2 linked regions of the Homo sapiens genome follow. The protein of the gene in region 2 purifies or fractionates together with the protein of the main gene of each other region. This does not show direct contact. Each region holds a gene or a part of one and is shown on either strand. Other genes may lie near its edges. The genes, in order: CCDC51 and NSG2.

Region 1 (3,244 bases), on a different chromosome or scaffold from region 2:
TTCTGGGGAGCCATTACTCGCCAAGGATAGATTGACTGAGGGACCAGGTGCTGAGAACCTGGGGTGGGGGGCATTTGGGCCATGCTCACTGCCCAAGACTGAACACAGGCTCCAAGAAGAAAGTATGCCTTATGGGAAACACTCCTGACTCCACAGGCTCTGAGAGCTCTGCACAGGCACCAGTGAACGAGTCCCCACCTGCGGCCCCCCTGCATATAGCTACCCTGCGCTCTCAAAGGGGAGTGGGTTCTCTGGAATGTGCCTGACTTCCAATACTCCAACACCAGGACTGAATACCAGCCCAAAGCTCCTGTTTACTCAGGGCACACAAGGCCACCCATGGCCATTTAGTCAAGGTCAAGGGTCACTGTTCCCCTCTGAAAAGAGATCATACATATGCCCCACTGCACCTCCCACCTGTGGGAGACCCCCCCCTCCCTATCACTGCCTCTCCATGCACACTCCCGGTGTCCTGAGCTCTGCCTATGCCTGTGGAAGATATCCCCGGGCTGTGTGGGGGTGTGCACCCAGCCCCCGTGGCACACCACTGCTGCCCAAAGCAATCTCTGTACCAGGGATCCAGACTGGCCACCAATCCCTATACTTATGTCCCCAGCAACATTTATCAACCATTCTCCCAATCTCCCTTCCCTGCTCTCCTCTGATCACTCCTCCAGTACTAGAACCAGGAAGTTCTCCCCCACATGGTAGAGAAAGTGATCCAGGAGATGGGAAGCAACCATGGTCACGAAATGAGTAGGCAGCAGGCTAGGTTCCACTCACTGGAACTCCCAGGCCATCTGACACCGGACAGTCAGGTAACTGGAGGAAATCCAAAATGAAAATCTAGGCCTCAGGAGTGCATCCATAACAGTTCAGAAAAGAGGACAGAGAGGAGATGAGAGAGGAACTAAAGGGGGTGACTACCCCAACTCCAGGCCCAACCTTCAAGTCTTGGATCTTGATTCTTAATGAAAAAAACTCAGTCTGATTGTTTTAAATAATAAAACTCAGGATATTTTAATTGGACATTAGCACAAAGTTTTGATAATTAATGTAAATGAACCTTGTCTACAAAGCGAAGCATGCCTGCTGGTGAGCCACACAGATACTGCTCCTTCAGATTGAGGTTGTACATGCCCCCAAAGGCTCGCTTCATTGCTACGATTCTCTACTTAAATCCACATTCACAGCTATTGCCTCAGACCCTCTGGAGGAGGGGCCAGGGGTTAGCTGGCTTTGAATAGCATGTAGAGCACAGGCAGTGTGGCCACAAATGTCACACAGGTGACCAGGGTGCTATAGATGGTGTTCCTGTTGACTTGGGCTTCTAGTCTCTGCTCCGTGTCTGACAGTGCCAAGATCATGCTCCCCTGCTCCAGCAAGAAGCTGGGCATAGCCCCGTCTGCTGGTTCCACCAGGCCTGGGTGTGCTGCAGACTTTACAAGCTGAACCACCCCAGCCATTTGGCTACAAGTCTTTTCTAGGCCATCAAGCTGCTCTCGTAAGCCTTCTAGACATGAATGGACTTGCCTGGAATGACTAAGCTGCTCTTTCAAGGCAGCTGAAAGGACATCTACATCTCTGTCTCTGGTCGGGGGACTACCTGCCTGTGACCCAGAGTCCTGCCCTGGCCCAGCAGCATGTACCAGGCCCCTCAGGTCCACCATGAGATTGTGGAGGTCCCTCTGCTGGCGGGAGTAGCTAGACGCCTGTTCTCGAATGGCCTCTTGGAGACTCACAGGCCCCTTCTGCGCCTCCAGGAGTAAAGCCTTCAGCTCCTGTAGTCGCACACGGTTCACATAGGTGGAGCCAGCCACACCAATCAGGGCCCCCAGGACTGAGCCAATGAGGGACCAGTTCTTGGTCCTCTCAGCCCTTGTGCGCTCCTTCTCATGACTTTCCCGCACAGCTGCAGAGAAGAGGGAGAACTTCTCTCGCTCAGAGTCTTCTGCACGCAGATAGGCTGTGCGAAGCCTCTTCTCCTCCTGCAGAAGCAAAGCCATGTTATTGGATTACATGGGCACAAGGTGGCCCTGCAGCTATAGCCACCAGCAGATGGCTCACTACCTTGTGCCTGGCAGAGTACATGTTCCATAGACCCATGCTGAATGAATGAAGGTAGCACCAACCTGGCTGGGTCAGAAGGGCAAAGGAATTGGGAGTGATCAAAGTGAGTTGCATGATCGTCCCACCTGAGCAGTTCTGGGTTTGACCAGAGGTGCACTTATGTCTACACAAAGGGAAGTGTCCAGCACTCCCTAGGCCAGCCCCTCCATAGTTCTCCTTCCTCAGCATTCTGAGTCCCAGGCTACGCTGCCCTGAAGAGTTGGCCCCAGTACTCCAGAAGAAAGTATATGGATAGACTCTGGAAGCTTGGGGTTCTGTCCATCCATAGGAGCTTCTGGCTCACCTCTGTACCAGGCCTCTGACTACAGACCAGTCAGGGTTCCCACCCGGCCCCTCCATGATCTGCCAGGCTAGGGTCACTGTCCAGGTGCGAAAGGGCTGCCTCCTGAGGTGCCTACCTGCAGCATCCTGTGCTCGAGAGTAGCCAGTTCCAAGTACTGACTGTCCTCCCTGGAGACACGGTCCAAGCGGTCCCTCACCTCCTTCAGCTTGGCCTGGTGAACTTCCAAGTCCTCCCGAGCCTCTCGGACAAGCCCTCGAGCCACCATGAACACTTTCTCAGCCTGCAAAGAGAAAACCGGAGGCCATCTGCACCTTCTCTCCACACCCACACAGGCTCAGCTGCATTCCCAGCAAGGCATTCCCAGAAGAGGTCACTGGGGTGTGAGCTGCAAAGGGTGGAAACGGAATTCCTTAGACACTAATCCTGGCTCACCCAGTGGTGCTCAAAGTGCAGCCTTGGGCCACACCCATCAGAATCACGAGATTTAGCCATTCAAGCAGAAATAACATGCCCCTGAAAAAACTTGAAAACAGCTAACAATGCACACAATTTGTGTCCATCAAACCTGTGTTGGTAGGCTGTTTCCCGTGTGTTGCCTTATTTATGCCTTATAACAATGCCATGAAAGGCACTGCTGTGGCCTCCAGTTTATAAACCCAGAAACACCAGCTCAGCCAAGCTCACAATCTCCAAGGAAAGAGATGGCACTGTTTGTCTCAAAGTCCCAGCTGAACCCCAGGTTCTTCCCACCACGCTACACTACTACATGCCTAAGCAGGAGTGGGAACAGAGATGACAGAATGCATTTCTGCCACCACAAAGGACTTGACA
Region 2 (3,500 bases):
GGAAGGCCACTGCAAGGGTAAGCAAACAGCCATTGAGCCAGGAAGACCCGCACCAAGCCGAGCTTTCCCAAAATGGAACAGTCCATGTCAAGAGGTAGTGAGCTGCTTCCCTCATTGCTGATGTGCCGTCCAAGCTGGACCACCTCCTGACCCTGGAGAGCACCATCTTGGGGGAGGAACTCTACTGCTTACTGGAGACTGAGTCCCTCAAGAAAACTTGGAAACTCCTTGCCAAACACATATTCCATTTTAAACAGTCGGTAGAGAGGTCGTCATACCCAGAATTTGGACACCAGTGAAGAGAAGACATTGATCAACCCTCTAACTGAATTTGATAGTGACCTGGGACTACTCAACCACCTCTTACCTTATAGACGAATCCCTCTGGGCAGCTGTGATCATAGGTGAAGGCTTTGTAAACCACCAGGAACACGATGCACGCAAGGAAAGCTAGGGCCAGGCTGACAAGGATGGTGACCTGGAGGAATACAAAATTAAGTCATCCAGCCTCAGTCTGCCCACCTTCAGTCCCCGTATGCAGCTTTCAGAGCCTAGAACTGGCAGGCAGCATGGTGTGCTAGAAAGGGGGACAGGCCCAAGGAACTGGCTCTGTCTTGGCTTTGTTACTAACTTGCAGTCTTTGGGCCTCTTTCCCCCTTCTGCAGGATAATCTCTGAAGCTCCATTTTTTTTGTTTTGGTTTTTTTTGTTGTTGTTTATTTGTTTGTTTTTGTGAGATGGAGTCTCACTCTGTCACCCAGGCTGGAGAGGTGGAGTGCAATGGCACCATCTCAGCTCACTGCAACCTTCACCTCCCAGGTTCAAGTGCTTCTCCCTGCCTCAGCCTTCCGAGTAGCTGGGATTACAGGTACCCACCACCACACCTGGCTAATTTTTGTATTTTTTAGTAGAGACAGGGTTTAGTAGAGACAGGGTTTCACCATGTTGGCCAGGCTGGTCTTGAACTCCTGACCTCAGGTGATCCACCTGCTTCGGCCTCTCAAAGTACTAGGATTACAGGCATGAGCCACTGCACCCGACCACTCCTTTCTGATTTAACATGTGATTTCCCCCTCATTTTCCTTTTCCTGATAACTATGTGGGATGTGGGGGAGTTGATCATTAAGCTGTCACTTCCAGTGCTTCCTGCTTTACATCCCCACCGCGCCCCAGCACTGGTGCATTGCAACCTCGGACATCAACTGCTTCTTTCGCCTCTACTTGGACATCTAATACACACTTTCAACACATTCCCAAACAGGATTCCTGCTCTCCTCCCAACTCAAACCTGCTCCACCTGCATTCTTCTTCATCTCAGAATATGTCAATTTCACATTTGCAGTCACTCAGGCCAAATATCCTGAAGTCATCCATGACTCCCTTTTTCTCAAACACCACATCCAATCTACCAGAAGAAACGATCATTTCTGCCTTCAAATACACCCATAATCTGACCACTTTTTACCACCTCAATCATGTCCAACCGGGTGGAAGCCATCATCATCTCTCACCTACAGCATCTAACAGCCTTCTAACTAGTGACGACTTCCTTGTCCTCTAGGGTGTATTCAGCACACAGCAACCAGAGAGAGCTTTGTAAAATCTAAAACAAAGCAGGGGCCAGGTGCAGTGGCTCACACCTGTAATCTCAGCACTTTGGGAGGCCGAGGTAGGAAGATCACTTGAGGTCAGGAGTTCGTGACCAGCCTGCCCAATATGGTGAAAGCCCATCTCTACTAAAAATACAAAAAAAAAAAAAAAAAAAGCCAGGGTGGTGGCAGGCACCTGTGATCCCAGCTACTGGGGAGGCTGAGGCAGGAGAATTGCTTGAACCTGGGAGGAGGAGGCTGCAGTGAGCCGAGCTTGTGCCACAGCACTCCAGGCTGGGTGACAGAGTGAGACTCCATCTAAATAAATAAATAAATAAATAAATAAATAAATAAATAAATAAAAAAAACAAAGCATGGCCCTTTTCTGCTCGAAAGCCTGCAGTGGTCTCCAGCTTAAATATAACCCAGTTCCTATCCACTATCTGAAAGCAACCTTTAAAAAAAATAATACAACACCAAACAAAGTGGGGGCACCATCAGGATTCATCTGAAACCAGTAATTGGTTAACTTCAGAGGCACCTCTAGGCTTGCACTGACCCCATCCCACCATCTATGTACAAGGGGGCAGGGAAGTCCCCATGATACCGGGGCATCTAATATTACAAGCAGAATTTGTGTGTGTGTTATTTTTTAAAGCTGGTGTCCCTTTCAGTCAGTTGGCCTAGAAATATGGCAGGATTCTTCTCATGGAGGAAAGGTTCCTTTTGATTCAGAAAAAGAGTAAAATTAACTTTGGGAGTGCCCATGCCATCTCTTTCCCACCCCAGGGCATGTTTATAAGGAAAGGAGGAGACAGGAGTTTACATTGCTCCAAAAATATGGAGTTGTCTGTTGGCAGTTTTAAATACTGGACGGGAGGAATTTGAAAAGGAAAAGAGGAAGATGGATGTCGGGAGGATTCTGTCCAAATCTCATGGGCAGACACCGTCCATGAGCAATTCCTAATGAGTGTGTATATGAAGTTTTAGGACAGTACTGTGTAACATTCAATTTTAAGCTACTGTTGACACCATGTGCTGTCCATTCTCTCCATTACCCCAAGCCAGAAGTTGAAGCCTGTTGCATGCTTATCAGCCTCCTGCCCTGGATTGGAGTGATAACAGTATGGGATGAGATGGTGCAGAGATCAGTCCGGTATCACACAGGCAAGAGGTGGAGCTGAGGTGGAGAAATCAAGAGAAGTTGGACTTAAAGCAAGAGATACCATGAAGACACATATGCACCCTAGGAAACTCCTATTTGAATAGTACAGGAAAGGAGGCCACCCAAGACCACGACTCACAAATGCTGAGGACCTAGGAACACATGATCAACATGTGTTTGGAGTAGAGATATAAAAAAATTTTAAATGCTCAGATTTCCCAATAGCCAAAAGGTAGAAACAGCCCAAATTTCCATCTGCTGATGAATGAATAAACAAATTGTGGTCTATCCATGCAGCGGAATGTTATTCAGCCATGAAAGGGAATGAAGGACCAGCTGCAGATGCAGACGGCCCTTCAAACGTGATGCTGAGCCAAAGAACCCAGACGCCAATGGCCACATGTCATGTGATTCCATCTGATGAGACTCCCAGAATGAGGAAATGCACAGAGGCAGGTGCAGACTGGAGCCCGCTAGGACTAGGGGGTCTGGGGGAATGGGGAATGACTGATAAGGGGTATAGGGTTTCCTTTTGGTGTGATGAAAACATTTTGAAACTAGACAGAGGTGATGGTTGCACAACATTATGGATGCACTAAATGCCACTGCACTGCTCACTTTAAAGTCATTATGTTTATGTTACACGAGTTTTCTCTTAGTTTTTAAAAATAAATGCCCAGAGTTCAGGCAGCATCCTGGCACCTGCAGCTCTGCCCTAGGGACAGGGAGCCAATTTCCTAAGTGGTG

What was found.
Region 1: the proteins of NSG2 (region 2) and CCDC51 purify together in Homo sapiens (affinity purification with mass spectrometry; one large-scale study listed by BioGRID and IntAct). This does not show direct contact.

What each region holds. Positions count from the first base shown.
Region 1 is NC_000003.12:48,431,179-48,434,422, forward strand, and holds the end of CCDC51 (mitochondrial potassium channel), read right to left. Parts: intron 2,799-3,244; exon of another isoform or gene 2,694-2,798; coding exon 2,529-2,693; intron 1,989-2,528; coding exon 1,230-1,988; 3' UTR 995-1,229; downstream 1-994.
Region 2 is NC_000005.10:174,101,206-174,104,705, reverse strand, and holds part of NSG2 (neuronal vesicle trafficking-associated protein 2), read right to left. Parts: intron 479-3,500; coding exon 368-478; intron 1-367.